Linked DNA regions of Homo sapiens: all the other regions are linked to region 3. The links come from fine-mapping of genetic effects on gene expression. A gene starts in region 3. Each other region holds a variant in brackets. All regions are shown on one strand. Distances are between the middles of the regions. Region 1 has its middle 120 kb from the start of TLR5. Region 2 overlaps DISP1 (dispatched RND transporter family member 1). Region 3 holds the start of DISP1 (dispatched RND transporter family member 1).

The links. PIP is the estimated chance that this variant, and not a neighbour inherited with it, causes the effect.
Region 1: its variant is the best candidate, but not a certain one, in a credible set for the expression of DISP1 in thyroid (GTEx, PIP 0.89).
Region 2: its variant is the best candidate, but not a certain one, in a credible set for the expression of DISP1 in cerebellar hemisphere (GTEx, PIP 0.89).

Annotation. Positions count from the first base shown.
Region 1 is chr1:223,017,000-223,019,760 of GRCh38, reverse strand. No RefSeq gene overlaps it. Among named protein-coding and RNA genes, the nearest start is that of TLR5, 120 kb to the left of the region's middle. The variant G/C (reference allele first, on the strand shown) is at 1,608.
Region 2 is chr1:222,938,473-222,941,233 of GRCh38, reverse strand. All of the region lies in intron 2 of DISP1 (dispatched RND transporter family member 1), which reads right to left. Among named protein-coding and RNA genes, the nearest start is that of DISP1, 120 kb to the right of the region's middle. The variant C/T (reference allele first, on the strand shown) is at 1,292.
Region 3 is chr1:222,813,528-222,816,288 of GRCh38, reverse strand. It overlaps DISP1 (dispatched RND transporter family member 1), which reads right to left and starts at 1,250. Exons shown (of 9, transcript NM_001377229.1): 1 at 1,211-1,250. RefSeq lists silencers at 1,290-1,389, 1,480-1,559 and an enhancer at 1,800-1,859.

The sequences.
Region 1 (2,761 bases), 200 kb before region 3:
ACGACATTTCCCCAAGGCTGTAGGGTAGAGCTTGGTTTTATACATTTTAGGGAGATATGAGACATCAATCAATACATGTAACAGTACATTGGTTTGGTCCAGAAAGGCAGGATAACTCAAAGCAGGGGCTTCCAAGTTATAAGTAGATTTAAAGATTTTTGGATTGGCAATTAGTTGAGTTGTTATCAATAGAAAGGAATGTCTGGGTTGAGATAAGGGGTTGTGGATGCCAAGGTTTGATCATGCAGATGAAGCTTTTAGGTAGCAGGCTTCAGGGAGACCAGACTGTAAATGTTTCTTATCAGACTTAAAGAGTCTGTTCTGTCAGTAATTCCAAAAGGGAGGAGGGAATGATGAGGTATGTCCAGCTCCCAGTTCCTGTCAAGGCCTGAACTAGTTTTTCAGGTTAACTTTGGAATGCCCTTGGAAGAGAGCAGGAGTCCATTCAGATAGTTGGTGGGGCCTTACAATTTTATTTTTGGTTTACAACAATATCAAAATTACCTAATGACACACTTCTTAGAATGTACCCCTGTCGTTAAGTGACACATAATTGTAGATAGATGGAATGGAATGGAATGGAAATAAAATGATGGAGGCAAAGGCACAGAATAAGAAGACAGTAAAAGAGAAAGCTGGGCTGGGAAGAAAGAAAGGAGGAGGAGTACAGAACGGATGGCCAGGTGGCCCCTAAATCAGAGTGTGGACTGCTTATTAAGGTGCAACTCCAGAGCCTCTCCCCTGACCTCTCCCCTGACCGGCTGAACCCAAATCTCTGAGTCTACTTTTCAACAAGCTCCTTGGGTGATTCTTATACTCATGAAAGTTTGGGAACCACTGCAGCCTAGCCTGGGCTAGCCAAGGCAGCAGCCACTAGCTGTGTGTGGCCATTTAAATGGGAATAAGCTAAAATTAAAGATTCACTTCCTCCCTCACATGAGCCCCATGTTAAGTGCTCAATAAGCACATGCGGCCGGGGCTATTGGGCCCCACCATCCATGTGAGGTATTGACTCCCAGCTCTCTCCAGTTGCCCGGACACAGGAAGGGATGACTGCCCCATCCTCAGTCAGGCAGTTCTCTCTACATCCTCGGAGGGTCCCTGCAGGCCTGGTGACTATGGATTTGGCGGGAGTCTTCCGTGTGTCTAACAGTGATGTGGGCCAGACTCCCAAATGTATCCCCAGCTCCACCCAAGCGCCAACCCAGACCTGTGGTTCCTGATCCCCTACAGAGACGGCAGGTCATCGAGTGGCCACAACATCTCCTTAGGCCCTGTCCTGCAAGGTCTCTGCAGAAGAGGGGCCAGTGTTGAAGACTGAGCACTTTGGGCAAGGTCCTTTCTTATTCTTGTCCCCACTCACACAGGCAAGCTGTGGCTTCAGAATGACAAAGTGGAACCAGGCTGTGCAGTTTCCTAGCAAATGTCCACCTGGGGCCCGAATGTGGTGTGTGGAGGGTGTGCACACTGTCACAGGCAGCCCAGGGAGGCAAGCAGTGTGACCCCCATCCACAGATGAGACTCAGAGAGGCTAAGGTGCGGGCTTAGCTCACACTGGCGAGGGGTGGTCTGGATTTGAATCCAGGCCTAGCTGATCCTCAGACAGT[G/C]CTCCTATGATCCTGATTTCTCTCTGCTTTGTCCCCAAAGCCGGGCCTCAAGGGGCCTTGGTTCCTGGCTCCAACCCAGAGAGTATCCTGGCCATCAGTCCCCAAAATCAAACATGCATCTCACCCCTTCCTACTGTGGGTCTGGAAGGATTCCTGGATGAGACCATCTTGATAATCAATGTTAGGATAATATGGTTTGGCTGTGTCCCCACCAAAATCACAACTTGAATTCTATCTCCCAGAATTCCCACATGTTGTGGGAGGGACCCAGGGAAGGTCATTGACTCATGGGGTCCGGTCTTTCCCGTGCTATTCTCATGAATAAGTCTCATGAGATCTGATGGGTTTATCAGGGGTTTCCGCTTTTGCTTCTTCCTCGTTTTTCTCTTGCCACCACCATGTAAGAAGTTCCTTTTACCTTCTGCCATGATTCTGAGGCCTCCCCAGCCATGTGGAACTGTAAGTCCAATTAAACCTCTTTTTCTTCCCAGTCTCAGGTATGTCTTTATCAGCAGCATGAAAATGGACTAATACACAGGATATCCCTTCCTTCCAGTTAAAGAGGAACACCTCATCCAGGAATTCCCGGTGCTGGGACAGCCTCCTGTTTACCCCTCGGCCTGCTCCGTCCCGGCAGATAAGGAAGAGCCACCCATTCTCTCCGCCACACCAGTGCAGGTTTCCTGCCGGACTCCAGGCAACTGCTTCCTAGCCAGGCTTTTTCCCAGGGGCTGGGGGTGGAGGCCACAGGCTCTTCAGCTTGTGAGAAAGTAGGGGAGAGGGAGCCCTAGAGAAATACCAGTAGGTAGGGAGGTGGTGAGAAGGGGCCCCGGCCTGCCTGTGGTGGGCTGTGCGAGACCCATGGGCCCTGCCCTCTAGCACACACAGAAAGCCCCTTGGCTTTCCACAGAAGACTGACCACTTTTCTCCAGCCATGACCCCTTTGCCCCTGCACCTGATGCAAAGCCAGAGGCAGAGCCACACAAGAAGCAGACTGACCCCACTGGCCACCCGGCCGGCCAGCACTGGGCAGATCTGCAGGGCTGGCTCCCCTTGGATGCACCAAGACCCAGCAGTGGGCGCCGTAGCGCCTGCCCACCAACAACAAACCTTCTCCAGCCAGCCTGGTGCCTGCCTTCTCAGCAAGCCCGATG
Region 2 (2,761 bases), 120 kb before region 3:
AACACAGAGTAATAGTAGTTAATGTATTATCTAAACTAGCAGGAGGTAGGGTAGATATACTGACCGGCAAGAGCACTAATGTGATCCAGGAGGCAAGAACTAATCTCATCATTTTCTAAATGTGCCATCTCAGCAAGATCTGCTCATTTATGCTTCAGTTTACTGAAGAATATAACCTCCCTTTTGTTGTTAACAAAAGAAAAAGCCATATGCAAAGGTTATGAAAATAACAAAACATAAAGGACATTTAAAGAAGCACTGGACGTTTTTTAAAAAAGCTAATTGAAATTTAAGATGTTTAATTGTGTCTTAGATAATGTAGGAAACAATCACTAGATGAGATCAATGTAATTATTTCCCAGAATTAGAAACTCTCATTGTACGAGCACTCCATTCAAAGAAATCACTGCAGGCACACGCTTTTCTCCAACCTCCACCTGTACCTCAGTTAAACTATCACAGCTGATGGGAATCTGCTGGGCTAAATGGGAAAGTCAACTCCTCCTGCCCTTTCCATCAGGAGGGCTGAAGGAAAGAATACTTCTAATTTGTTAGTTTGTTTTTACCATCCCAGGTTGGTTAATGTATCATCTCAAATAGTCTACTTTTTCCTAGGTATTTAATTCAATCAATTCTACTGATTCTAATCACAGATGCTGGGTAAGTCATGCCAGTGAGAAGCATCTAATAACAACAAATGACTTAAAAGTTTCAAAGTGAAACTGGCTGATAGGGTTTGGATCTGTGTCCTGCCCAAATCTCATGTCGAACTGTAATCCTCAGTGTTGGAGGTGGGGCGTGGTGGGAGGTGATTGGATTATGGGGCTAGATTTCCCTCTTTGTGCTGTTCTCATGATAGTGAGTGGGTTCTCCTGAGATCTGGTTGTTTAAAAGCATGTGACACATGTCCCCGGCCAACTTTCTCCTTCTCTGGCCAGCTTCCCCTTTACCTTCTGCCATGATTGTGAATTTCCTAAGGCCTCGCCAGAAGCTGAGCTGGTGCTGCCATATTTCCTGTACAGCCTGCAGAATCGTGAGCCAATGAAACCTCTTTTCTTTATAAATTACCCAGTCTCAGGTTATTTTTTTTTCTTTTCTTTTTTTTTTTGAGATGGAGTCTTGCTCTGTCACCCAGGCTGGAGTGCAGTGGCGCGATCTCGGCTCACTGTAAGCTCCACCTCCCAGGTTCATGCCATTCTCCTGCCTCAGCTTCCCAAGTAGCTGGGACTACAGGCGCCCACCACCACGCCTGGCTAATTTTTCATATTTTTTAGTAGAGACGGGATCTCAC[C/T]GTGTTAGCCAGGATGGTCTCGATCTCCTGACCTCGTGATCCGCCCGCCTCAGCCTCCCAAAGTGCTGGGATTACAGGCGTGAGCCACTGCGCCCGGCCTTTTTTTTTTTTTGACAGGATCTCCATCTGTTGCCCAGGGTGTAGTGAAGTGGTGTAATCTTGGCTTACTCACTGCAACCTCCACATCCTGGGTTCAAGTATTCTCCCACCTCAGCCTCCTGAGTAGCAGGGATCACAGGTGTGTGCCACCACACCCAGCTAATTTTTGTATTTTTTGGTAGAGACAGGGTTTCACCATGTTGGCCAGGCTGGTCTCGAACTCCTGACCTCAGGTGATCTGCCCACCTCGACCTCCCAAAGTGCTGGGATTAGGATTACAGGCGTGAGCCACTGTGCCCAGCCCAGGTATTTCTTTATGGTAGTGCAAGAACTGAATACATTGGGCTTCAGACAGAATCCCATCAACCTCTAACTCCCTTCAAAGAACCCTGAAATCCCCTCTAGACCCTCCTCAATCTTCATGTTTTCCTATCTTCTAATTAAATCTGCTTATCCTCAGTAAAAAAAAAAAAAAAAAAAAAAAAAAATTATTTTTCTTCATAATCAGAATCACAACTATCATTCTCTTTTAAATTTATTACAAATGTATCGTTTTGTAGTTACACAAGAGTTAAATAGATTCTTATATGCCAGCTGGGGACCTAATCATCACTTATAACATGTTTTTTCCACATGGTAAAATGCAGTTCAAATGCCAAATAACTGACTTACAAATGAATTTTTGGAACACAACCTATTTTGTAACTTGGGAGACTTCTTGTAATGAAGTAGGAACTAGTAAAGAATAATTTGAACTCTGACTTTGGCTTGTATTTGAAGCAAGTCACATGAGTGTTCTCTGATTCCATTTCTTTAATTATAACATGGGACCAATCAATTTGACCTCATAAGTATGTAAAAAGTACAGGTAAAAAAATTTAGAAGCAAAAACAGAAAAAATATTTTATGAACTGTCTATAGATTATTTAAGTTCAATGGATGCATTTGGGTAGGTGTTCAGGTGACCAGCCAGAATAGGAAAGTATTTCACTCTGAGATCAGGAGTTAACCCTAAGGCCCATACAGAGAAAGATCATCCCTTCCCCCTCTTCATCCCGTCCTTCCTTCCTTCCTTCCTTCCTTTTTTTTTTTTTTTTTTTTTTTTTTTTTAAAGACAGGGTCTTGCTCTGTCACCCAGGCTTGAGTGCACTGGTGCGATCATGGCTTCCTGCAGCCTAGACCTCCCAGGCCCAAGCAATCCTCCTGCCTCAGCCTCCTATGTAGCTGGGACCATAGGCATGTACCATCATGTCATGCTAATTTTTAATTTTTTTGTAGAGGTGGGTTCTCCTATGTTGCCCAGTCTGGTCTCAAATCCCAGAGCTCAAGCGATCCTCCTGCCTCAGCCTCCCAAAGTGCTAGGATTACAGG
Region 3 (2,761 bases):
AATCACATCCAATAAAACATAAATGCAAGGTAAATAATAACTAAATCAATAATTACCTTTGGTAATAATAATGAGCCCACATACCAAACACTGGCCACTGGGGAAAACTAAATGTGCTAATGTGCGTGTAACAACAGATCTTGGGTTATCAATATTTTTAAAAAACACTGACAATGGCAAATATTTATATATATATATATATATATATATATATATTTCCTTACAGCAGAAATAAAAAGGAACAGTAAAATCTTAAGAACTGCTAGTAATTTGCTGCACCCTGATGTAAAATTGCCTTTATTGGTTAAACTAAAAGACTAAACCCAACAAAATAGCTTTTAGAAAAAATGTGTTAGAAAGTTGGACAGAAAAACAATGAGTTGAAACTGCAAACATTGACAGCACTGGCTTTCCATGTGATTATCACCATAATTCTGAACGCATTTAGTTCATCCCATGACAAGGGAAATAAGACAAGCTAAACTCTGCAGGGTAGAGAAGAGTCCAAAAGGAAAACTTTGGTTGTCTTCCTTGGGTGAAGAGAACTCTCAACTACTATCAGTTTGACAAAGACACGCAGAATCTGGGTGAAGCAAGAATTCGAGCGGTCCCTAGGAATATACAATATTTTCCCGAAATCCACACGCGCGGAGCGGGATATATTTCTAAAAACAAAAAACAAACTGCATGAATTGCAAATGAAGCAATAGGAGTTCAGCATCCAATAGGTGGCTGGTCATCTTTCTGGTTCGTTAGGTCAAGACGTCCTTCTCACCTACGACCCTCAGAGAAGGACTGACTCCCTCCTCTGTAACCTCTCCCTGGAAGCCAACCTTTGCCATCTCCTGCCATCCTCTCAGTCAATCCGCCAGGACCCGGGACACGCCCCCACGAATGACTACTTTCCTCCGAGATGCAACTCTGCCCCGTGTCATCCGCAACCTCCAGTCTCAGGGCCTCTTTGGCCTCAGGGTCCCCGGTGCCTCCCTCCTCAGTCCCTAAAGGCTGCCCTTAGGGCTCTCCTGGTTCCCCGTTCTCAGTCCTGGCCCTTCTCTCAAGCCTGGGGTCCCGGATTTCCCTCCACACGCGCGGGAGATGCCGACTCTCCCGTCCCTACCCGGTCTCCCAGTCCCGCGGCGCCGGGCGGCGGCGCGCCGAAAGGCATCCACTGAGGAAACAAGTGCCTGCAACGTTCCGGCTGCGAACTCACCTCCAGTCCGGGCTCTCGGATGCTGGCCCGGAGCCGGGCTTCCGCCTGGCGCGGTCCGCGTCGCGAGCGGGACCGGAAGTCCCGCCCCTCGCCCGCTCCCGGCCCGCTCCCGGCCCGCTGGCCTCGCTTGACTACCGCTCCCCGGGAGAGGGATCGCCGGCGGCGGGCGACGGGCGGCTGGCAAGGGGCAGAGGGCAGAGGGGCTTGGCTTGAAAGGGCGAGGCAGGCGCCAAAAAAATTCCCTCTCGCGCTCCTGCTCTTTCTAGTGTATCCATCGACCAGTGTGCAAATGCTTGACCAAGCGTCTATTCTGCCCAAGCCCAGTGAGGCACAAGATGACTCAGACACTGACCTCTGTCCTCACAATCTAGTTAAAAGTTGACATAAGTAAAAACAGAAGTAAATCACGCCACAAGACAGTGTTTCTTCTTTCATTATTCAGATTATTATCACCTGCTATATAGGCCTGTGAACAACCAGGCACTGCTGTAGGGGCTGGGGATAGAGCGAACAGAGGACAGCCCCACTCTCGTGAGGCTTACACTCAGGGCGAGGAACTAGCTATAGAATAAATCGAACAGCGGCGGCTCCCTCGGGAGGCTTATGCACAGAAACAAAAATATATAAGCAATGAAACCATCAAGTGTTAGAGGCACTCTGGTGGTGCTGTAGGGAACGGTGCAATGTAGAGAGCTGGGCGGAGAAGGCTTTCTAGAAATAATGACTCTTCAATTGAGACTGAAATAAATGATGAATAAGAGTTAAAGGACAGGCACAGTGGAGAAGGGCATGCAGAGAAGAAGGACGTTATGGAGTGAGAGCTTGGCTTGTACCGGTAGCTGGCCAGGAGTTAAGCAAAGTGTCAGATGGCAGATGCAAGAGCAAGCATAATGAGAAGAGACAAGGCCAAATCATGAAGAACGTTGTGCCCTATGCTTAAAAATTTTGGACTTCAGAGACTCCGTGCAACGGAATCCGTGGGGTCATCTAAGGGAATAGACAAAACAGTGAGTCATGGGGTTGACTAGGGGGATTGTCCTAGTCATCAAAGAAAAATAATACATCATGAATAGCATGTTTTATCCTTGAGGGTGCTTTCTTGAACTGCCATACCCAGATGTAAAGGCAATAGACGGCTACCACAACCCTATAAAGGCAGGACCACAAGGGATCATACCCCTCAGGTTGCTGCATTGAGCAAATCACCCCAACCAACTGAGATGCTAACTGAAGTCACAGGGAACTATGGAATGGGCCCAGAAGAAAGAAGCTTCAACACCAGCTACAGTAATGAGGACTGTTGCATTTTTTGTTTGTTTTCTTTGCTACCAGTGTTTAATAAATACTCTCTTGCACACCAAGCCCTTTCTTTGCCTTTTTAAAAAGGAATGGTATAATACATACATTTTTCTTTTTTTCTCCTTTTGCCAGCAAAAGGCCATACATTGCAATATATGGAGATAGGATTACAGTAGAAGAAAATGAGGAATGGATATCGTGTAGAAAGTCTGTACTTAGAGGGCATAACATCAACTCTAAGTGAAGTAAAAG